Regions from separate parts of the Homo sapiens genome. Here region 1 is linked to region 2. Evidence: fine-mapped expression QTL. A gene starts in region 2. The other region holds a variant in brackets. All regions are shown on one strand. Distances are from middle to middle.

Evidence for each region.
Region 1: its variant is fine-mapped to the expression of GNA13 in whole blood (INTERVAL, PIP above 0.99).

The regions. Positions count from the first base shown.
Region 1 is chr17:64,958,768-64,975,519 of GRCh38, reverse strand. LOC107985000 (a long non-coding RNA gene) reads left to right here and starts at 12,756. Exons shown (of 3, transcript XR_001752973.3): 1 at 12,756-16,752. It also overlaps the pseudogene AMZ2P1. RefSeq lists silencers at 66-265, 815-1,109, 9,284-9,447 and an enhancer at 9,667-9,716. The variant T/C (reference allele first, on the strand shown) is at 8,555.
Region 2 is chr17:65,052,524-65,060,523 of GRCh38, reverse strand. GNA13 (G protein subunit alpha 13) reads left to right here and starts at 3,784. Exons shown (of 4, transcript NM_006572.6): 1 at 3,784-4,213; 2 at 6,796-7,022. The coding sequence starts at 3,931. RefSeq lists silencers at 3,497-4,006, 4,287-4,546.

The DNA.
Region 1 (16,752 bases), 89 kb after region 2:
GGTGCTGTCAGAGCTGGGCGGGGCAGCCGGGTCGTAGAGGCGGGCGCCAGTCGCGGTCGGTGGAGAGGGATGAGGATGTAGGAGGGACGGACGTGGCGGAAGCCGCGGGGACTGCGGGGGCGGAGTGCCTCTGGGGAGCCAGGGAGGCCTTTCCAGAGGCTCCTGGGGGAAGAAGAGGCGAAGCGAGAGTCCCCGGGGAAGCCCTACTCCACCCCCAGCCGGAGCCTGGGTTGTGCCTGCACGGACCAGAGCCCACAGTGCGAGTTGCTGTAGGCAACCAGCTAGGGTGGCCAACTTCTCCCGGTTGGCCCGAGATGTTCTGGTTTTGGGACCACAGCGTCCCAGGCCTCCAGCCCACCACAGTGACCATATTGTGCGCCCCCTGCCCATCTTCTCCCGCAGCTTCCCTAGATTAGGCTTGGGAGGCAAGGGGAGGCCTCCTGACTTTTCTCACTGCCTTCGTTAATATAAAGATGAAGGCACACTCCACAACTTCCTTCTGGCCAGGCCCAGACATGTCTGTCCTTGTGAGATAAAAGCTTCCATGGGAGCCTTCCTTCCTAATCAAGGTAGGTAGACCACTGGAAGGTACATCTGGTTTTATATTTTGTCCTGTAGAAGTCAGATTTCAGCCCAGTTGTGTAGGAGTGAGGATGAGCTTATGCTCTTATCAGAGCTTTGAGTACAGAGACATTTGATCTGGAATTTCAGCCAGCCTCTTCAACCCCAGAATTCAGAGGTTCAATCAGAACAGACATTAGCTTAAGTTTTCCCATCAGTTGTCTATCATTAAACTGGCAAAATCTAGATAATTAGAAAATATGACAGAGATGATCCAGACAGAGATGTTCAGGTTTTTCCTTGTGTAATTCAAAAAGTCTCGTGGTGGAACATCTGACCCTTTTCAAGAGGAAGGATGAAAACTCTACATAGGAACACGATGTGAATGGAAGAAACCTGTCATTGTGAGTCTGGCTTTTGATTAGTCATCTGATGTCTTCCCTAATGTGATGTGACTAAGCCGTAGCTTCTCAGCCTGCAGTTAAATTGCAGAAATGATAGGGCTTACATTAGTTTTGTTTTTATTTGATGTTGAAGATCTTTGAGTCACACTAGAAACGAGGAGTATTTTTCATGTGGCACTAATGAGTTAATTCATAATATGATTTTTTGAGACAAAGTCTCTGTTGCCCAGGCTGGAGTGCAGTGGCACGATCACAGCCCACTGCAGCCTCGACCTCCTGGGCTCAGATGATCCTCCCACCTTAGCCTCCCAAGTAGCTGGGACTACAAGTGCACACCACCATGCCCGGCTAATTTTTTTGTAGATATGGGGTTTTGCCATGATGCCCAGGCTGATCTCAAACTCCTAGGCTCAAGTAATCCTTCTGCCTTGGCTTCCCAAAGTGCTGGGATTATAAGCATGAGCCACCATGCCAGGCCAATATTATTCCCCAAAAGAAGGAAATTGGGTGTGAGGTCCTGCTCCTATGGTCACCATGAGATTTTTTTGTTTGTTTTGGACTCTTGCCCAGGCTGGAGTGCAGTGGCACGATCATGGCTCACTGCAACCTCAGCCTCCCTGGTAGCTAGGACCACAGGTGTGCACCACTATGCCCAGGGAATTTTTAAGTTTTTTGTAGAGACAGGGTCTCACCATGTTGCCCAAGCTGTTCTCAAACTCCTGGCCTCAAGCAGTCCTCCTATCCCAAAGTGCTGAAATTACAGGCATGAGCCACCACGCCTGGCCACCACTAGTTTTTGTAATGGGAGCAGGTTCCATATGAGATGGAGGAATGGATTTCATGATTGTCTTTGTAATTTCTTAGGTCCCCAAGAAATTGATTGGACATGAGGAAACCACTCTAAGTGTGACCACTCTAAAGCATTAGCAGTCAGTCATTTCACTCTAGGGAGAAATCAGAGCTGTATATGGAGAATAGGTAAAGTCCCCAATATGGATATGTATTTTTATATTTGACTGCTTGTATTTTTTTGTTAGATGCAAATAGTACGGTATTCCGAACAGACACTAAAAATAGCTGTCATCTCAAAGAATCCAGTGCTTGTGTCACAGTATGAGAAAGTAGATGCTGGGGAACAGCGTTTAATGAATGAAGCATTCCAGCCAGCCAGTGATCTCTTTGGACCTTGCATTCTCCATCAGATTGGATCACCTCCCACCCTGAGGCCCCCCAAGACTTTGAACAGTTCTTCAGTCATCCTTACAGAAAGATACCCTCTCCAGACAAACGCAGTATTTATATACGGTCCATTGGTAAATACTGGTAATGTGCTAGTTTTGGTTCGGTTTTGCAATGGTTCTGTTGTCAGGAATAGTCCGGGCTATTGGTCTGATTCAGATGGGCCATTTTAGGATCATTTTTGATATTCATTGCAATGGTACAAGTTTTGTAGCCAAACAGACCTAGAACATTTTTTTTTAATTCATATCAACACCGATGAATGTTAAAGGTGTATTGAAAATTTAGAGTTGGTTTTGTTTCTAATTTGAATCCTCTTACTCATAGACTGGGTAAACACTGAATAATCGTCTTAAAGTCTGTTTTTAAATGTTCTTCCATATTATAGGATCTCTATGAAGCACCAGAATTATCAGTGAAGAATATATTAAATGGCTCACGGGCTACTGTAAAGCATATTTCTATCGCTTGAGAGTAAAACTGCTAGAACCAGTTCCTGTTTCTACAACAAGGTGTTCCTTTAGAGTCAATGAGAACACACAAAACCTACAAATTCATGCAGGTGAATTACACAACTTTGCAATTTGAACTGAGTAAAGGAAGCATATGTATATAATATACACTCATACATTTATGTATTTCTTCTTAAATAGGGGACATCCTGAAGTTCTTGAAAAAGAAGAAACCTGAAGATGCCTTCTGTGTTGTGGGAATAACAATGATTGATCTTTACCCAAGAGACTTGTGGAATTTTGTCTTTGGACAGGCCTCTTTGACAGATGGTATTCCGTTTTTGGCATTGTTGTTAGAAGCTTCTTCAACTTGAGAATATTTGAAGATGTTAAAAGAGGGAAAAAAATTCCAACCAAGAATCATATTGATATTTAAAACTATAGTATTTTCAGTTGAGACATTATGCCATAATGGGAAGTGTGCTGTTGGTAGATTGTGATAATCTAGGTTCTGGTTGGCCACTCACTACCTACAGGACCTTAAAGGTAACAATACCCACATCATGGAGTCATTTGGAGATAATTTACATAAAAGTGCCTGTACATAAAAAGTGTGGATAAGCCTGGACAACATAGTGAGACTACATGTCTACAAAAAATAAAAATTAAAAAAACTAAATTAGCTGGGCATGGTGGCACACACCTGTAGTCCTAGCTATGCAGGAGGCTGAGGCGAGAGGATTGCTTGAGCCCAGGAGGTTGAGGCTGCAGTGAGCCGTGATCGCACCACTGTACTCCAGCCTGGGCAATAAATTGAGACCGTGTCTCAAAAAAAAAAAAGCATATATAGGCCTGGCACATATATAGGCATTCAGCATAACAGCTAGTAAACGTCAGTAATTCAGTAGCAAGGTGAATTAAGCCAATTACAGTTTGAGCTATCATTAATGGATGTGAAAATCTTGCTAATTGTTTTTCAATTCTTTTCATAGTCATCTTGCACAGTTAGGATAGCCATAGACTAAGTGTTGCTTCTTTCTCATCATACGACATTTGTTTTTTGTTTGTTTTTTAATTTAAAAAGTAAAAACTTCCATCTTTGATTTGAGATACATAGTAAACATTGACTCATTAGGAACTCTGCATGGTAATATTGGGGATGGGAAAGGTTCACGAAACAGGTTATATTTTTAACCTTTTTTTGTCATCTCTCTACTTCTCCCCTCCCCTTCATTTTTGCTCTTACTTCTCTAACTTCATCCCCAATAATCCAAGACAGACTTGAAAGGGAAAAGGCCCCCTAAGGGGAGTGGTTCATTAGTGTTCTGGGGATGGGGAGTAAGTACAGGGACTATCCTGAGAGTTTATGGTCTGTCTGGATGTTACATTAGCCTTAGGATTTGTGTGGGGTGGTAAGCTTTTTGGGACAAATGTTTCTACTAGAGGTGGGGGCTGTAGGGCTATAGAGCCTCTTCCCACTTACTCGTTTATTCTTTATTCTCCATTTATGTGAGGTTTACTTGTGGCCCCCCATGGCCCTACCAACATGCAGTCTTGGAGACGTGGGTCACTACTCTCTTACTGATTTTGGTGGTGTGAGGTAGCTTTTTATCATAAGTTTTCTCTCTTATTATTAACCTGATAGAGACGGAAACATTAAAAATTAATTTTATCTACCTTTCATTTTTCTTTTGATACAGGGTCTCCCTCTATCACCCAGGCTGATCATGGGTCACTGCAACCTCAGCCTCCTGGGCTGAAGGGATCCTCCTGCCTCGCCTCAGCCTCCTGAGTAGCTGGGACCACAGGACCACCACACCCAGCTATTTTATTTTATTTTTTTTGTCGAGATGGGATCTCCCTGTGTTGCTCAAGCTCATCTTGAATTCCTGGGCTCAAGCGAGCCTCCCACCTCAGCCTCCCAAAGTGCTTTGATAAAAGGTGTGAGTCACCACACCCAGCTAAAAAAATAATTTTCAAACCATATGTTCGTTTATCTAGATATTACTAGCTAACTTATCTTATGTATTTGAGGAGGTCAGGAAACATTTCCCCAAACTGTTTTTACTTTAATTCTTTTTTTTGTAAGTTTCTTAAATATTACATGACATGAAAGATTTACATAGGAAAGTGGCAGGATTAGACAGTGACAATATCTTAACACAGTGGTCTTGTTTTCTCCAAGTTTACAAAGATTCATATTTTTAAATTGAGAAGCATTGACTACGAAAGAAAATAATCTTCTATTTGTAGGATTATTGGAAGAAAGAAATGTCCTTGCTGAAAGTATTACTGTAGTGAAATATGCTCACACTTGATTGGCCAGAGGGGGTTACTTGTGATACATGAATAGATTTAGTGTTTTCTTAACTTCTAGAATGCTATTTTCCCTAATTTTCGAATATCAGTCCACATTTTCTGGGTAAAGGGAGGTGAGGAAGTTGTTTTTGAATCAAATTAGATTGAACAAACCTACCATGGGTTATTTTCTTTAAAAATTTATTACTTTAAAATAAAAACTGAACGAGAGACATAAATAAAAGTGATCATGTAAACAAGTCGAATTGTGAAGCAGTACCCTGTAGGGTGAGTTACGTAGCAAACCGTGTTCTCTGTGCTTGCAGAGATGGTTGATATAACTCTAAATGTAACACAGGAAGTCAGTTACAAGGGTATTTATTCTGGTCACCAGACACTAGTGACAGAATAGAGTTGAGCTGCTCTTTAAAAAGGGGGTGGGGGTGGGGAAGGGGACGAGGTTATTCTGTCTAAAGCCGTGGTTTAAAGCATGGGCTTCAAGACATCAGGGCAGTTGTCCTCAGTCAGTGCTGCGTGAGGGAAGGCCAGCAACCCCTCCAGGCACACGTGTAACAGATCTGTTTAGCGTGTCCTTAAAGAGTGAAATCATGACTGCCTATTGTTGATGTGATTTATTTTATTTTATTTGTTTATTTATTTATTTATTTATTGAGATGGAGTCTCGCTCTGTCGCCAGGCTGGAGTGCAATGGCGGGATCTCGGCTCACTGCAACTCCGCCTCCCGGGTTCAAGCCATTTTCCTGCCTCAACCTCCTGAGTAGCTGGGATTATAGGCGCCTACCATCATGCCTGGCAAATTTTTGTATTTTTGTAGAGACAGGATTTCACCATGTTAGCCAGGCTGGTCTTGAACTCCTGACCTCAGGTGATCCGCCCACCTTGGCCTCCCAAAGTGCTGGGATTGCAGGCATGAGCCACCATGCCTGACCCATGTGATTAGTTTTTGTGGTTCCTTTTTGAGTACTTGATTTGGAGTACTTGCTACTTTCAGAAAAAGACTTCTTTTGTGGGAAAAGACTCTGAAACTTCAGTTTCTCAAGTATTTGACCTCCAGCCCATTAAGTTTTACAAGACAAGGCATGGTGGATAGCAGCAAAGGATTTTGATAGGGAAATCTGGGGCTTCTTCCACTTGGAAGAAGCTGACCGGCGCCCTCTAAACCTTTGCCCTATCTGTTTGCACAAGTTGCAGTGTGCTGTTATTGGCTTCAGCATTGTAGAAAGATATAAAGTAAGTTGAGGGATGGATAGTGTAAAGAGGGGGAAGTGGTTATCTGAGTAGCAAACTGATGTATCTATTATATCCTTCTCTAGAGTTATAATTTATCAGAGGAAATTAGTGTAAAGATAAGCAGGAAGCTGTGGTTTAAAAACATGCGAAGAAATGCCCTTCTTAAAAACTTCAGCTTGCCTTAGAGTGATTTATGCTTACAGTTCAATGAGAAATAGTGGAAGAAATTTTCTGCTTCTCTTCCATTTAGGGCAAGAGAGCTTGACTTTGCAAAACTGAATAAATATTGATATGTGTGGCAAAGTTCATTTTTTAAACCCTATAAGTGTGAGGACAGGATTTATCTTTCCAAATATGGGACAGAGGTATGATGTTCATTAGGAGGAAAAAAGTGATTTTCTTTAAAAAGGAAGAAGGAAAGTACCTAATCTCAGTATGTGTGTGTGTGCCCACACTTGCCCACAAACATCAATATACATTCATGTGTTTACTCATGGGTATGACTGCATTCAGGTGACTGCACAGAAATGTCTACACATGTGTTTTCACATACATATGTCTACCCATGCCTGTGTGGACACTTATATATGTATATACATACATGTCAAATTAATATAATGCCTTGTAGAATATTCAGCAAGTTGAGAAAAAATATCCTATCATGCTAGAAACAAAGTATAAGAATGAGTGTATTTCTTTTTCATCTTTTTTCAGTGCGTACTTTTGACATCATTTGTAATTCTGTGTGTATTTGGTACGTGCCATTTCACTCAGTATATCATTAGCATTATTCATATTCACAGCATCATTATCAAATGCAGCGTCTTCATGGGGTAATATGTCACCCTATGATCTAGAAGCCAATGCTTCTCTCTTGCCTGATGGTATTTTGCTGTGGTTTGTTGAAGTGCGCATCTTTCAATGCTTTTCCAGGCACTGGTGAGGTGGATTGATGATGAATCTTCTGGCACACCTGGAGCAACTCCAGAACACAGTCGTGAGGATAATGGGAATTTACTGAAACCCGTGGAAGGAAGCCTTTAAGGAATGGAAAGAGTGGATAATAAAATGCCTGACTGTTCTCCAAAAATAAGGACCTTCAAATAGGAGTGATTGAAATAAATGACTACTTGCATGTTATGCTTTCATTTGGGTGGAATACTTCATCAGAATAAACTATTGATCTTGTGCTGTGTCAAAGTAACAGACTAGAACCTTCTTTCAAGTACCTGAATTGAAATGAAACTCATTTTGAATAATAAAAACTCTAGAAACTCTTTATCTTCTCATCTTACTGGCCTGGTCTGTGGCAGCAAGCACATTATTTCCATTCCCCAAATATGTTTAGGTCTCCCAAGAAAGCTGGGACTGGCGGTAATGAGCAAGTAAATAACTTGAAAAAGAACTGTAGATGCCCCAAGGAACCAACCAACATAATTTCCAGGGGGTGATTTTGTTTTTAGAAGAGCTGCTCCCCTCTGTTAGGGCCAGCCAAGTCACATTTTTGGACGTCCGTGGACTCTGATCACCACAGCCCTCCTCTTCCGTGAGCCTTCCTTACTCTCTCGAGTGCATTAGCTCATTTTTTTTCTTTTGCTGGTTGTCACCTTATTCCTGTTTTAGTTTTTAGCAGCTTAAAATACGACCTCTCAGGAATATTTGCAAGTGAAAATAACAATGGTCCTTACACTACCACAACATTTGGTGGTGGGAGTTCCGTTGCAGGTCTCAGCTATAACATAGTCATTTATGAGGGATCTTACAAATAGTGTGTAATGGTATTTATATTTGTGAGTGTTACACTTTCTCTATAGACTTAGAGCAGCTTTCAGGTTTATTTCAGTAATAATGTCTTTCTCACCTTCTCACATTGTGAAGTGTTTACCTGAGTCAGGGAGAGAGTTTAATGGGGTTATCTGTCGGGGTGCCATGAATGCTGATGATGGTCTGCAGGTTGTGAACATCAGCCCCATTGCTACAGGGGTGGACAGGTGGAAAAGCTCAGACTTGACAAACCACCTCTGCTAGATAGATGTGTCTTGGAAATCCAGAAATTACAGTGAATATTTTATGGAATGCCAGTGAGCAGACAGCATTTCCCACTTTCCTATCTTACCTTGAGGGTAAGACTTAAAGGTATTTTTTTTTCTTGTAATTTGAAGCCTAAATTCTTTGATTGTTTGATGTATGCAATATGATGTAAGGCACATTTTATACCCCTAGTCAGTGGTTTCCCTTGGATTCATTCTCCTACTTGATTGAACCCATTTAAGTCATTTTAGGAAATGGTGGTTTGCTATTAAAATTAATTGGAGAGAATACTTGGTCATTCTGTTAGCAAAAAGAGAC[T/C]GATGGAGCATGGTGTTTTATGGATTCTGTTACAGGGCTTATTCCTCCTTGAATAATGTGCTTTAAAAATTATTGTCCATTCGATTACATTTTCTTTTATTTTCCTACAATGTAAGCACGGTTTTAGTCCTGTAGGTCAGCCTTTCTCACAAACTCTTTTGAACTAAGATTTGCCTAGGTGAATAAATTGGGGATGACGGTTGTCTGGAGAAGATATAAGGTCCATTTGTGAATACTCTGCACTATGAGACCAGGAGAAAAATCATCTAAGAAATCGTTCACTCTTGCTAAAAACTGAACTAAATTTTATATGATGCATTTATTCAGCAATCATAAGTGCTGTGCATAACTATTGTACATATTTTTGGACAATTTCTTAGGGTTCAGCTTAAAAATATAATTTGCCTACTGCAACTAAATTTTATGTACTGTGGTTAAATCTTTGTAGTTTTAGAAGATAATTTTCACTAAATAAATCCAAGCAGATTTTGCTCTGCAAATGCTGAATGAAGTATTGAACTAATAAAAAGGATTAATAATTTTCTACTGTCTAAATAATCTTAGAAATCAGTGAATTTGATTCATTTATGTCGTAGATCCTGATCCCGTTTACCTGTGGAGTTAATATCTCTCCAGTCAAGAGATTTTTCAGGCCTCAGACTTTTAATGGTGAGGGTTAAATAGAAGAATTTGGCGAGGATTACCCGTCGGTTCTTGTCCAGCTTGCTTTTTGAAGCACACATTCCCCTGATATGAATAATTTACATTTCAAGCCCTACGAGGGACAGAGGGCCGCGTTGCTCCCTCTAGGGAGCAGCAGTGCTAAAATCGAAGCAGGCAGCTGCGGGACCGCTATAGCCGGCCCTGCGCTCGGGCCCTTCCCGGGCAGGAAACGCGTCGCTGTCCCCGGCTGCGCCCAGGCCAGCGGGCACAGCAGCTGCGAACCGCCGGCGCACCACCTGTTTCCGCGCCCGGGGACTTCCCCGGCGGGGCTCAGAAGTGTGGGGTCGGTCGCTTGGCTTCCCCTGGCGTCGGCGACCCAGGGTAACCTCCTCCACTGCTGCGTGCCGTGCAGGCCTGCCTGTGTGAGAGCCACGTGTGCCGCGCTCTGGGCACAGCCTTGGAAAGTCAGGACCGCGACGGCAGCAGAGCAGTGAGTGGAATTAATTCTCAAGTAGAGCATTTAAAAAGTGCTTCATTGAAGAGTTTGAATCTCAGTCACTTTGTAGATTCGGATATCTAGAATGGCACCGTCCAATAGAAATATAATACAAGCCACCTATGTAAGCTTAATGTTTCTAGTAGTCGTATTAGCAAATGCATAAAGAAGCAGGTGGAGTTAATTTTAATAGTATATTCTATTTAATCCAGTGCATCCAAAATATTATTTCAATCAATATCAATGCTGAATATTTTATATCCTTTTTTTTTTTACCGTCTTCAAATTCCTGTATGTATGTTACACTTGCAGTACGTCTTACTTCCAACTGGCCACATTTTCAAGTGCTCAACAGCCCCATGTGGCTTGTGGCTACTGTATTGGACAGTGCAGCTCTAGAGCAGTACCCAACTCTAGTGTACCTGGAAAAATGTACCCGTGGTATTGAGTTACTAGGAGAGGAAGGCTTATTTCAGGAAAAGGTCATGTAAATCTTCTGTCAGTACAGCCGGTGCTGACATTCAAGCTGAAAGGGTGTATGTAGACACCGTTTAATGTCTACATTAAAGGCCTCTGGCTTCGGTGTTAACTTGTTTCTTTAAAAGCTTGATACTGTTCTCTGTTGCAGCTTGTTTTTTACCCTCCCGTCTTCATTTTCAAGGGCCTGGTATTGTCTTCAAATGCATTTCCATTTTTGGAAAGCGGAGTCGTAAAGCATTAATAATGTGGAGATTGTTTAGTCCATTTCATGCATGAGGACACAAGCCTGCAGCAGCCGAGTAAACTTGCGTGTCATGTAACCAATGGCAAAAATGGGATCAGATCCCAATTCTCCCTAATGCTGAGTTATTCGTTATTTTCACTGTGCTACATGACCTCATTGAAGTAAAATATCACCGGCGAGAACCTAACCATTTTTCCCCCAGGTTGTTTACAAGGGATTATACACGATTAAACTTTCAATTTCTTTTCTGTTCAAGTAGAGCCATCTGGGGTTGCTCAAAGTTGGAGAAATCAGTCTATGTACAGTTCTGCCTTAGTACCAAAAAAAGAGAGGTGCGATATTTATTTATTTATGAAATAGGGTCTCGCTCTGTTGCCCAGGCTGGAGTGCAGTGGCATGATCACGGCTCACTGGAGCCTCCACCTCCCATAGTCAAGTGGTCCTCCCACCTCAGCCTCCCAAGTAGCTGGGATTACAGGTGTGCACCACCATGCCCGGTGTATTTTTTTTATTTTTAATTTTTAGAGATGGGATTTTTTCCACATTGTCCAGGCTGGTCTGGAACTCCTGAGCTCAAGCAATCTGCCTGCCTTGGTCTCCCAAAGTGCTGGGATTACTGACGTGAGCCACCGTGCCCCGCCAAGAGTTGCAATATTTAGTAAAGCTCTTGCGACTAGTTGAGGCATTAAAAGAAAGCATTATGAAAAAAAATGTCTACTGGAAAATAGTTAAAACAAAATCTATTGGGGCAATATGTTCAAACTCACAGACTGCCATACTTAACCCAGTATTGATTTCATCCCACTGTTTTCTTTAGTGTCTGCTCATGGATCAGTTTTTTCTTCTTTACAACTGACCCACCCATGTAGTACACTACTGCTGGGCAGTCTGAGATCCATCCATCCTCAGATGCTGAACCGGTGGGTTCTCGGCACAGTGCTTTCAGTGTCCTGTGGTTATCCAGCTGTTTCATAGCAGCAAAGACTCTCTTGAGCTGTAACTGTCAATAGATATCTTTTTCTTCTCTTGTGTAACTAAAGGGGAAAAAAGTCTATAACTCATTCATTCATGTATTTTTCATTCAACAATATTCATGGAGCACCACCTACTGGGTGCCAGGCCCTGCTCAAAGCCTTGGGAATACAGCAGTGAACAAAGAACTCCTACCCTAATACACTAGTGGATGAGACAGAGAGTCAAGGAGTAAACAGATGCTTTATTTTATTTTTATTTTTAATTTTTTTTGAGACAGAGTTTTGCTCTGTCATCCAGGCTAGAGTGCAGTGGTGTGATCTTGGCTCACTATATCCTCTGCCTCCTGGGCTCAAGTGGTCCTCCCGCCTCAGCTTCCCAAGTAGCTGGGAGTACAGGCACGTGCCACCGCACCTGGCTAATTTTTGTACTTTTTGTAGAGAGGAGTTTTACCATGTTGACCAGGCTGGTCTCAAACTCCTGGGCTCAAGCAGTCTGCCCACCTTAGCCTCCCAAAGTGGATGCTGTTATAACCTAATGTCAAAGTAAACAAATAGAAACAAGTACCATTTTGAATAGGATAGACAGGAATGCCTCCCTAGGGAGGTAGCATTTGGAAGTGATCAAATTGAAGGGTCACACTGCATATACATCTCAGGCAAGGGAGTACCAAGCAAAGGAAACCACAAATGCCAAAGCCTGAAGCTTGCAACAAGAAGAACAATTCCAGAAACAATAAGAGAGGCTGGGTGTCGTGGCTCACACCTGTAATCTCAGCACTTCGGGAGACCGAGGCAGGCGGATCACCAGTTCAGGAGATTGAGACCATCATGGCTAACATGGCAAAACCCCATCTCTACTAAAAATACAAAAAAAAAAAAAAAAATTAGCCAGGCATGGTGGTGGGCACCTGTAATCTCAGCTATACTCGGGAGGCTGAGGCAGGAGAATCACTTGAACCCAGAGGTAGAAGTTGCAGTGAGCCAAGATTGTGCCTTTGCACTCCAGCCTGGGCAACAAGAGTGAAACTCCATCTCAAAAAAAAAAAAAAAGTGGGGGGGCTGGGCGTGGTGGCTCACGCCTGTAATCCCAACACTTTGGGAGGCCAAGGCGGGCGGATCATGAGGTCAGGAGATAGAAACCATCCTGGCTAACATAGTGAAACCCCGTCTCTATTAAAAATACAAAAAATTAGCCGGGCGTGGTGGCATGTGCCTGTAGTCCCAGCTACTTGGGAGGCTGAGGCAGGAGAATTGCTTGAACTTGGGAGGCAGAGGTTGCAGTGAGCCGAGATCATGCCACTGCACTCCAGCCTGGGCAACAGAGCGAGACTCTATCTCAAAAAAAAAAAAAAAAAAGCCAGTGGGGCTAGTATAACAGGAGCAGAGGGAAAAGAAATACCATCGGGCAGTTCACGCAGGGCTCATTGCCAAGGATTTATGTCAGACTTGTGCTGTAAGAAGATTACTCTGGCTACTGTATGGAAAATTAAGATGGGGTGGCATGTTGCAAGAGTGGAAGCAGGCAGGCCAGCTAGAAGACTACTGTAATAATCCAGCTAAGATGATATTGGCTTGGATCAAGGGTCCTGATGCAGTTGGCAGAAGCAGTCAGCTCCTGGATATATTTAGAAAGGAGAGCCGATTGGATGTGTGGAGGAGTGGGTTTGAGGAGGAAGATCCAGAGTTCTGCTGAGGACATTTTAAGTTGAAGATGCTTAGTTTATATCCATGCCCTGCCATGCAGGCAGATGTAAATCAGGAGCTCAGGGACAAAGTTGAGACTAAGAATGGGAGGTGTCGATGCAGAGAAGGTACTTAAAGTTTTGGTTGAATTCCAGGGTGTATAAGTTGTTAGGGAAGTTAGCGTGCTTGTTCTTGAGTTGCTGGAAAGGCATATAAATGACACAAATACATGGCCACAATATGTATTTTCTCAATAATATTTGGGGAAATGTTCTGGGCATCAGGTTTCCCGTCTAACTTTCCCTGTAGGAAACGGATAGTCATTGAAGTAATTTTGATTTGGGTGAGTTGTTACACGGATAGCGAAGTTGTAAGTTCTCTTGCCACTTTTCTTGTTCTGCACCTTTCGAGAGTCATTATGAGAACTGAACACTAGGGGGACCCAGTTTCCTTACTTATGCAACGGCGGCTGGCCCAGCTGTACGCTACGATCGCCCTCACTTAGGACACATGCAATATAAACACAAATCTGAAAACAAGGGCAGCTTCTCTTTTCTCAATGCAATGTATATTTATAGCAGTGATCATTTTTGCATGTAACATGTCTGAATTCCTTAAATAGGTCATTTTAAGTAATGTGCATAACCATTACAATTTTTCTTTTTTGAGACAGGTTCTCACTCTTTGCCAAGGCTGTGTGCAGTGGTGCCATCTGGACTCATTGCAACCTCTGCCCCCTGGGCTCAAGTGATCTTCCCACCTCAGCCTCTCGAGTAGCTGGGACCACAGGCATGAGCCACCACACCTGGCTAATTTTGGTTTCACCATGTGGCCCAGGCTGGTCTTGAACTCCTGAGCTCAAGCAATTCACTCACCTTGGCTTCCTGAAGTGCTGGGATTATAGGGATGAGCCACCACACCTGGCCACCGTTTAAAGATTTAAAGGCAATGGTTTCTAAACTCTAGTTCCTTGTGAGCCCCATATTTGCAAACTTGTGAAAATAAGGATCATGATTTCTTATTTTTTATTATTATTATTATTTTTGAGATGGAGTCTCACTCTGTTGCCCAGGCTTGGGTGCAGTGGCGCGATCTTGACTCACTGCAACCTCCACCTCCCAGGTTCAAGTGATTCTTCTGCCTCACCCTCCCAAGTAGCTGGGATTACAGGCGTGCACCAACATGCCCGGCTAATTTTTGTATTTTTAGTAGAGACAGGATTTCACCATGTTGGCTGGGCTGGTCTCGAACTCCTGACCTCAAGTGATCCACCCACCTCGGCCTCTCAAAGTGCTGGGTGGGATTACAGGTGTGAGCCACCATGCCCAGCTGAAGGATCATGATGATTTCTAATTTACAATAGTTGAATTGGAGTATGGAAATCTAAATCTAATAAATACCACCTGGTGATTTGAATCTGTGCCACAAGAATGCTGACATAGAATCCATTTTCTATTTTATCACCAGGTATTAAGCAAAGGGAAAGGCAAATAAATGCTCAAAAGCTACATTACATGCTATTGGAGTATAAAATGTATAACTTTGTTAAAAGGTTTGGACACATTTTGTATTAGTTACGGATACATAGGTCTTAAAAGAGTACATGATCTTAATTCTTTTTTTGAGACGGAGTTTCGCTCTTGTTGCCCAGGCTGGAGTGCAATGGCGCAATCTCGGCTCACTGCAACCTCCGTCTCCCGGGTTCAAGCAATTCTCCTGCCTCAGCCTCCCGAGTAGCTGGGATTATAGGCATGTGCCACCACGCCCGCCTAATTTTGTATTTTTAGTAGAGACGGGGTTTTTCCATGTTGGTCAGGCTGGTATTGAACTCCCGACCTCAGGCGATCCACCCGCCTCGGCCTCCCAAAGAGCTGGAATTATAGGCGTGAGCCACTGCGCCCGGCCCAACTCATTTTTATAACTAGAATAATTTTAGTTTTGGGGAGAGAAAGTCTACATAAGGTTTATACTGAAACTTCTTGAAGTCAACAATCTTAAAGCAGAATCTTTTTAATCAGGAGAAATGAAAACATAATTAACAGCCTGGTGTGGTGGAGGTGGAGGTTGCAGTGAGCCAAGATCGCACCACTGCACTCCAGCCTGGACAACAAGAGTGAAACTCCATCTCAGAAAAAAAAAAAGGAAAAAAAAAGAAAACATAATTAACAAATACGTTAGCTATAATGCCAAGCACGGTGGCTCACACCTGTAATCACAGCACTTTGGAAGGCCATGGTGGGCAGATCACTTGAGGTCAGGAGTTCAAGACCAGCCTGCCCAACATGGCAAAATCCTGTCTCCACTAAAAATACAAAAATTAGCTGGGTGTGGTGGTGCATGCCTGTAATCCCAGCTACTTGGGAGGCTGAGGCAGGAGAATTGCTTGAACTCGGGAGGTGGAGGTTGCAGTGAGCCAAGATCGTGCCACTGCACTCCAGCCGGGGTGACAGAGCAAGACTCTGTCTCAAAACAACAACAACGAAAAAGTGTTAGCTGCTTGATCTTTCCTATTTTGGGGCAGTTATGATCTAAGAATTACTTTGACCACAATGAATCCTTTCCCATGAGTCAGGACTGTTAGTTTTCAGAGCTTTGCTTCTGGTGGTACTGATCTGTGCCAGTGTTACAGATATGTGGTGAAGGAGCTAGAATTTTTTTTTTTTCAGCTTGAGAGCTAATTGTGTGTGTGTGTGTGTGTGTGTGTGTTTAACATTTTTATGTGATTGAAAAAATATATATTTCCTGTATGAAAATCTTGTGAAATTCACATTTCAGTATCCATAAATAAAATTCCATTGAAACATTGCCACATTCATTCATTTATATATTGTCTGTGGCTGCTTTTGACCCTCAATGGCAGAGTTGACTAGACAGAGGCCTCATGGCCTGCAAAGCTTTAAATATTTACTATCTGGACCTTTACAGAAAAAGTTTGCCAAACCCTGGCATGTAGAGTCTGTGCTGTTTACTTACAGGTTGCAACAGTTCTTGGAACGATTCTGTAACTGGTTGTAGTCTTTAACTATTTGCCGTTATGACTTTTGATAGGCTTACTCTGGCTACCATGATATCATTTCATTCATGTATTTTTCATTAATAATTAAATACCATCGCTGCTTTCATTCTTAATTCTTAGATGAAAACATGCTTCTTCATTTGATTATATTGTTTAATTTTTATTTCGCTCTCCTGTTATTCATTACTTAATATTTCCCTTGAATTATTTAGTCTTTTTCTAAGGTGCTGTAATTTGCATGAAAAACTCAACATAAAATAAAATTGTCCTGCTTTCAATGACCAGAAAAAATGATTTAAAAGTTCAGGCCACACACGATGGCTCACACCTGTAATCCGAGCACTTTGAGAGGCCGAGGCAGGTGGATCACCTGAGGTCAGGAGTTTGAGGCCAGCCTGGCCAACATGGTGAAACCCCATCTCTACTAAAAATACACAAAATTAGCCAGGCGTGGTGGCGGGCACCTGTAATCCCAGCTACTCGGGAGGCTCAGGCAGGAGAATCACTTGAACCTGGGAGGCTGCAGTGAGCTGAGATTGTGCCATTGCACTCCAGTCTGGGCAACAAGAGTGAAACTCCATCTCAAAAAAAAATACTAGTAAATATAAATAAATAAAAAGTTCAGTAGACACTTCTTGGGAA
Region 2 (8,000 bases):
TATGCAGGTTTGTTATACAGGTAAACTGCTCATCTCGAGTTTGGTGTACAGATTATTTAGTCACTCAGGTAATAAGTATAGTATGCGATATGTTTTTTGTTTTGTTTCGTTTTGTTTTGGTTTTTGAGACGGAGTTTCGCTCTTGCTGCCCAGGCTAGAGTGCAATGGCGTGATCTCGGCTCACTGCAACCTCCGCCTCCCAGGTTCAAACAATTCTCCTGTCTCAGCCTCCTGAGGAGCTGGGATTACAGGCGCGTGCCACCATGCCCGCCTAATTTTTGGTATTTTTAGTAGAGATGGGGTTTCATCATATTGGCCAGGCTGGTCTCAAACTCCTGACCTCAGGTGATCCGCCCGCCTCGGCCTCCGAAAAGTGCTGGGATTACAGGTGTGAACCACTGCACCCGACCAGGTATTTTTTTTTTAATCCTCTCCCTCCTCCTGCCTTCCACCCTCAAGTAGGTCCCAGTGTCTGTTGTTCCCCTCTTTGTGTCTTGTTTTTTAGAGATAGGGTCTCACTCTGTCACACAGACTTAGAGTTCAGTGGCATGATCATAGCTCACTGTAGCCTTGAGCTCCTGCATTTAAGCAATCTTCCTGCCTCAGCCTCCTGAGTAGCTAGAACTACAGCTATGTGCCACCACATCTGGCTATTTTTTTTTTTTTTTTTTTGAGACAGGGTCTGGCTCTGTTCCCCAGGCTGAAGTGCAGTGGTGCAATTTTGGCTCACTGCAGCCTCCGCTTCCTGGACTCAAGCGATTTTCCCACCTCAGCCTTCTGAGTAGCTAGGACCACAGGTGCACACCGCCTTCCCCTACTTTTTATATATTTTTTTGTAGACAGGGTTTCACCATGTTGCCCAGGCTGCTCTTAAACTCCTGGCTTAAGTGTTTGGATTACAGGCGTGAACCACTGCAGCCGGCTAATCTCTTGGCTACCATAAATGGTGCTGCCATGAACGTGGGTATACAAGTTTTTGTTTGAACACTGTTTTCAATTCTTTTTAGTATTTTGGGGGGTATACCCAGGATAAAATTACTGGGTCATATGGCAATTCTATGTTCACCTCTTTGAGAAACCACCAAGTCTCTAACTCATTTTTATGTTTACAATTTACAAGGTGTCTTGATCACCAGTTAGAAGAAGCTGGACAGCTGCAGCCAAACCCCTAGGTTGGACCCAAAGAGGTCTCTTTTTCTTTCTTTCATTCATTCATTCTTTTTCTTTTTTTTTTTTTTTGAGACAGAGAGTCTCACTCTGTCACCCATGCTGGAGTGCAGTGGCCTGATCTCGGCTCACTGCAACCTCCGCCTCCCACGTTCAAGCAATTCTCCTGCCTCAGCCTCCCGAGTAGCTGGGACTACAAGCGCCCACCACCACTCCCCACTAATTTTTGTATTTTTAGTAGAGATGAAGTTTCGCCATGTTGGCCAGGCTGGTCTCGAACTCCTGGGCTCAAGTCATCTGCCTGCATCAGCCTCCCAAAGTGCTGGGATTACAGGCATGAGCTACTGTGCCCGGCCTTCTTTTTCTTTCTTTCTTCCTTCCTCCTTCCTCCTTCTTCTTCTTCTTCCTTCATTTGACTTTCAGGTCAAAGAGGTCTCTTTTTAAAAACTACACTGACTAGAACAGCCAGACTTGATGTGAGCCAAGTTTGTTCCAAGGCAAGCTTACACGCAGGGCTTTAAACAGCTTTCTCTGCTGCTCTGCATGTCACGACATGAACTGGCTGGGCAGGAATACCTTCCTGCCTCCTAGGCATTCTTGGTTTTCCATTATATTACACACACTTCTGAAAAAAGATGTTAACTACCTAACTTACAAGTTTCTCTCCTCTTTGTTGGAGTTCAGATTAGCACCTGGGGTCAATGCAGAAACAGTGCTCGGGGACAGGTTCTATGCCCCAATCCTGGGAGAGGCGAGTCCTTGCATGGTTAGAGAACAGGGCCTCCCAAACACTAGATGAGATGATGGAAAAATTCTCCATCCAGGGCAGGCTTTTACCATATATTTTGCCTGACAGCACTGCTCAGTGATTCTGACTCTTATCAATCCACAGATATTGGAGGTGAGCCTACTCTACTTGTATATTGTAGGTTGTCCACCCTCTGGGCTTGCCAGAGCCACAGGAGATAATCCTACTACAGGCATTGTTTACTGCAGCCAATCTACTGAGTCGAGGCTTCTCGGTCATTAACCCAACCCCAGGGAGTAACTGATTAGTACCGATTTTAAAATTTAAACCTGTTCGGGAGTTTCTTGGAATGCTGACCTCTTACCTCCGCTCCCTTATACATACGAAGTTTCTGAGCCACAGGAGCCCAAAGCTACGTTGCATTGCCCAAAACAGGGACAGACCAAAGTGGCTTTTTCCACTTGAAACTAAATACTAAGAATGAAGAGGTCGGCTCTCGGGGGTCCCGGTTAAGCAGTTTCTCTGCCAACCCACAGCTGTCACTTGTGGCTTGTCTCCTGGCCTCCTTTCAGGTGTCCTGGCCTGAATCTGCTGTTAGGACAGAAAAAAAGTCCCTGGACGGGTCATATCCTCTGTAATCTGGCAGGAAAGCTAAAATTTGCGTGCTCCCATTCCTCGTTGTGTTTGTGTATCTGCTTCCTTGTTGGGAAGAGCCTACATCACAGTGTCCGGTGTAGGGGATTTTCACCATGACCTCACCCTCCTGCTGCCACTCGCTAATTCCGGCGCGGCCAAGCGTCCCTGAAGTCACATCACAGCCCAGGTGGAATGCACGAGTGAGCCATTAAATGCCCCTGGTAGCACGTCTCAAGTGAACATCAACTCCAGTTCTTTCCCCTCACAGAGAGCCCTGGTAGGGGTCTGAAAATGCCAGAAAGAGCTGGAAGTGGGGGTGGACGACGTCTGGTTACCGTTCTGGGATTCGGAGACTAGAAGGTCAAGGGAGTCACTTTAAGAAAACACACCAGGCCTGGGCCTGGTGGCTCTGTCTGGAATCCCCGCACTGTGGGAGGCCGAGGCTAGAGGATCGCTTGAGCTCAGGAGTTCGAGACCAGCCTGGGCAACATAGGGGGGAGCCCCTGTATCTAAAAATAAATACAAAAAATTTAGCCGGGTATGATGGCACACGCCTGTACTCCCAGCTACTCGGGAGGCTGAGGCGGAAGGATGGCTTGAACCTGGGAGGCGGAGGTTGCAGTGAGTCGAGATCGAGCCAATGCACTCCAGCCTGGGCGACAGGGTGAGACTCCGTCTCAAAAGAGAAAAAATAAAATGAAATAAAGAAAATGCACCAAAGGCCTGCCAGGCTCACGCCGGCTGTTCTGTTCGAATAACTTTCGAGTCCGTGGCCTCGAAATGGGTCGGGTGGGCGGTGACAGCGGGCAGCGGGCGCGCAACGCGGGAGAAAGGGAGGCTAAGTGGGAGCCCAAAGAACCGCGTCCGGGACCTGGTCTCCGGCCTCCCGGCCTTGGGGAAGGAGCCCTTCTGCCCACAAGTGGGCTCAGGCCATGAAAGGGAAACAGAAAGTCGGGCTCCCCAGCCTGGCCCACGTGACCGCGGTTCCTCAGCCCTCCCCGCGCGCCCGGCCGCGGCTGCGGGCGCGGGCACCCGAGCGACACATCGAGCTCGTGACTCGCCGCCCAGGGCGGGAGGCGGAGAAGCGGCCGCGGCGTGCGAGCGCGCCTCCGGGAGGCAGCGGGAGCGCGCACGCTCCGGGGCCACCGCCCCTCCGGGGCCGGGCCCGCCCTCCTTCCCTCCCTCCCTCCCCCGCTGTCCTGGCCCGCCCTGCCCGGCCCGCCCTGCGAGTCAGTTCGCTGGTTCCCTCCCTCCCTGGGCGCGCTCGGGCCGCCGCCGCGCTCCCCGCCCTCGAGCCTCGGTGCCGGAGCCGCCCGCCGCCGGAGGAGGAGGTGGAGGGAGCCGGAGGGGCCCGCCGAGGCGGCGGCGGCGGCGGCAAGATGGCGGACTTCCTGCCGTCGCGGTCCGTGCTGTCCGTGTGCTTCCCCGGCTGCCTGCTGACGAGTGGCGAGGCCGAGCAGCAACGCAAGTCCAAGGAGATCGACAAATGCCTGTCTCGGGAAAAGACCTATGTGAAGCGGCTGGTGAAGATCCTGCTGCTGGGCGCGGGCGAGAGCGGCAAGTCCACCTTCCTGAAGCAGATGCGGATCATCCACGGGCAGGACTTCGACCAGCGCGCGCGCGAGGAGTTCCGCCCCACCATCTACAGCAACGTGATCAAAGGTGCCGGGCCGGGAATGGGGGCCGGGGGTTAAGGGCAGGGGGGCTGGGGCGGCGGCGGGTGCGGGGCGGGGCACCGCCCTGGTCCGCTGTGTCGCTGGCGAAGGAACGGGCCCGGCGGGCGGGCTGGCGGGAAGGGGGCGCGCCCCGGCAACTGGCCCTGCCCGCCCGGGGTGCCCTCGCGCCCCAGGGCGAGAGGATGCTCGGGGTCGCCCTGCTCTCCCGCTTGTCTCCCCGGTGGGCGTCACGGCCATTCCCCCACCCCCCACCGCGTCCTGGTCTCTCCCCCTGCGAGAGGGAAGTGGGGCGAGCTGGGTGCTGCCTCGGGGTGTGGGCAGACCTCTCCTGTCCTCCCCGCTGCGGATGAGGCAGGAACACCAATAGCAGCCCTAGCCGCTTCACCCCCATCCCCTGCTCGGGCGATGTGGGCCGAACCTCGCTACCCTGGCTGGGTGACCCGAGTCACATGGGGTCGCATGCGCTCCCAACTCCCTGCTTCCTTGGCCGTCTCCTAAGCAAGCGAGTTCTGGAACCGTCGCAATAAGGGAACTTTTTGCCCGAGACTTCTTGTCAAGGGCGTAGGGTGACAGCCTCCTTTTGGGCGAGAATATGAAACTTGAGGAGTGTCAGGTTGACTGTACTGGAATCAGGAGAGAGTGGACCCATACAGTTAGCATGAAAATGTAGCATCTGTGCTTTTTCGCCCCAGTGTCACGGTCAGGTAGGATGTTTGCGTGTGATTTCTGTGCAACACGTTCCACTCTCCTTTTCGCTAAGTAACTGGGGGCTGGCAGGAAGGGAGTACCACTGCTTCTATTTAGATGAAATGTAGTAGTAAGAAGACTGGCCTAAAAGTCATGTGGATCCTGTACAGATGGAGACAATGAATGAGTGTTGAGTTAGATAATTGGCTCGGCTCTTTATTGACAGTAGTTTTAAAATTAAACTTTGTTCTTAAGTGAAAAATAAACAAGTTGTTTATTTCTGGGCATTCAAAGAAATCGAAAAGATGGTTTTTATTTTGTCATTTGAAAGATAATTAACACTCGTTTCTGCGTGTCAAGTATGTTCTATAGAAAAGGCATTTTGGCAAAATTTAGGTGCAGCGCCTGGTAACTCAGGTGCATCTGGATTTTATTTTATCTGGGGAGCAGTTTAGGAGTTTGCTACAGATTGCAGGTCTTTTTAAGTGGGATTTTTGTTCAGGAAGTACATAAGGGACTTCTGCATGTCACCCCCCCGCCCCCTCCCCGCCAACCGCCTCCCGAGCTTCCAGCGTTTGGGTAAAGGAAAACTGCCTGAAGAGCCAGGCATTATGGAGTAATGAATTAGAGAGAATCACTAGACCACAGCCAGCTCTAGCCCTAGTACCTCTGCAGTTAAACTATAAAGAACAGTTGTATTTATCCTGCTGTAATGTTTAGCTCAAAACTAATTAAGGTCTCTTTCAAGGCTGCAGACTCTGCCTTGACAGTCCTTAATTGAAGGTACCTTTGTAACCTGATGCAGCTGAACTTAAGGAATTATGTTAATGAATAGCATCAACATGTTAACTGACTGTGAGCCTGGTAAACACCTCGTTCTTAATGTACACTGAGTTGTAAGTGTGATCTACGTTGAGCATTGATTATGAGATGATGTAAGTCATCAGGAATCTAGTTTTTTCAAGTTGACATGAAATTTGACAGTAGAACAGTTTCTCAGGCTGGGCGTGGTGGCTCACTCCTGCAATCCCAGCACTTTGGGAGGCCAAAGTGGGAGGATGGCTTGAGCCCAGGAGTTCCAGACCAGCTGGGCTACATAGCCAGACCTCGTCTCTATTAAAAAACAAAAACAAAAAAACCCCACCCGTTTTTCAGTTATTCAGATGACTTCCTAATAGCCAAGTGACTGTTCAGATTGATCAAACTTAATAAAAGTAATAGATCAGTGATAGGAAAAATGAGTTTCAACTAACCTCTGTGAGTTGGAGTCCGACTTTGTATTATTTTGCAGTTGATCTTCCTCCCTTTTAGGGAAATTGAAGGCCATCCTGTAACTTAAACTGGATTGAAACTTGGGCTGGAAGAAGTTTTTAAATTTTGAATGTGTTGCTAGAAGACTCAATGTTGGGTTAGGGTGCCGAAGCAACAAACAGAACATGGAGCTATAGTAGTTGGTTCTTAGTGTTTCATAAATGAACATCTTTTAGGCTCATAAAACCTTGGTTGTGTCTGTTTTCTTCTGAGCTTGGACATTGTTGGTCTGTGCAGCATAACTTCTTTTTCTTTCTTGAGTTAGATTGTTTTTTGACTACCTTCTATCCTAGAAGTTATTTTATAAATTGGAACATGTTAAAAATCCTTCAGAGAGAGGAATTGTGCTAATAGTATTTGCTTTTCAAGGCTCTAATTTTAAGACAGTGAGCAACTGTTATTTTTTTTAACCTCTGAGAAGTTACATTTGTTTTCGATGTTGGTCTTCATTTTTGAAGAAGGTTTGTCTAGGTTAATTCAGAAGTATAAGGAAATAATACTGGAATAAAAACTTATGATAATATGTAATGACTCCTCTCCATACATTTTTTTTCTTCTTTTTAAACAAAGGTATGAGGGTGCTGGTTGATGCTCGAGAGAAGCTTCATATTCCCTGGGGAGACAACTCAAACCAACAACATGGAGATAAGATGATGTCGTTTGATACCCGGGCCCCCATGGCAGCCCAAGGAATGGTGGAAACAAGGGTTTTCTTACAATATCTTCCTGCTATAAGAGCATTATGGGCAGACAGCGGCATACAGAATGCCTATGACCGGCGTCGAGAATTTCAACTGGTAAGAGATTTGCTCTTTTAAAACGTGTGGTTTTATTTTAATGATGTTTAGTAATACAGGTTGCACATCCCTAATGCGAAAATTCGAAATGTTCCCAAATCTAAAAGTATTTGAGATGGAGGAACAGACTGAAAGGCTAAGGCACAGACCTAATGTGTCCTAGTCTCTAATGACTACGTGTAAAAATAGTGTATAAAATTACCTTTAGGCTACATATCTTAAGGTATATATGAAACATAAATGAATTTCTAGTTTAGACTTGAGTCCCATTCCCAGCATATCTCATATGTATGCAGATATTTCAAAAATCTGAAAAAATTCAAAATCCAAAACACTTCTGGTCCCAGGCATTCGGATAAGGGACACTCAACCTGTATCTGATTTTAGCACACTTTTTTCACTGACTTCCATAATTTAATGTATCTATCCAAAATTATAGCCTCAGAAATTTGTTTTTTTGTTTTTGGGGGGTTTGTTTTGAGACGGAGTCTCTGTTGCCCAGGCTGGAGTGCAGTGGTGTGATCTTGGCCCACTGCAACCTCTGCCCCCAGGGTTCAAGCAACTCTCCTGCCTCAGCCTCCTGTGTAGCTGGGTCTATAGGCGCGTGCCACCACACCTAGCTAATTTTTGTCTTTTTAGTAGAGGCAGTTTCGCCATGTTGGCCAGGCTGATCTTGAACTCCTGACCTCAGGTAATGTGCCCACTTTGACCTCCCAAATTGCTGGCATTGTGCCAGGCATTTTTCCCCTTTTTTCTTTAACGAGACTACCCATAAAATGCTTTGTAGCTGTTACACAGCATTGAAGACAGGTTTGGAATAAAAGTATCCAATCCAGGTTAAAGATACAGAATACAGTTGAAACAAATTTTTAATCAAGTGTTTTGTAATTTAACTGTGAATGCTGTGATTGGGTTTTATTTGCCAAAGATCAGAAAGATTCCAGCAGTGATAGAAATCTAGACTGTGTGCAATTTGGA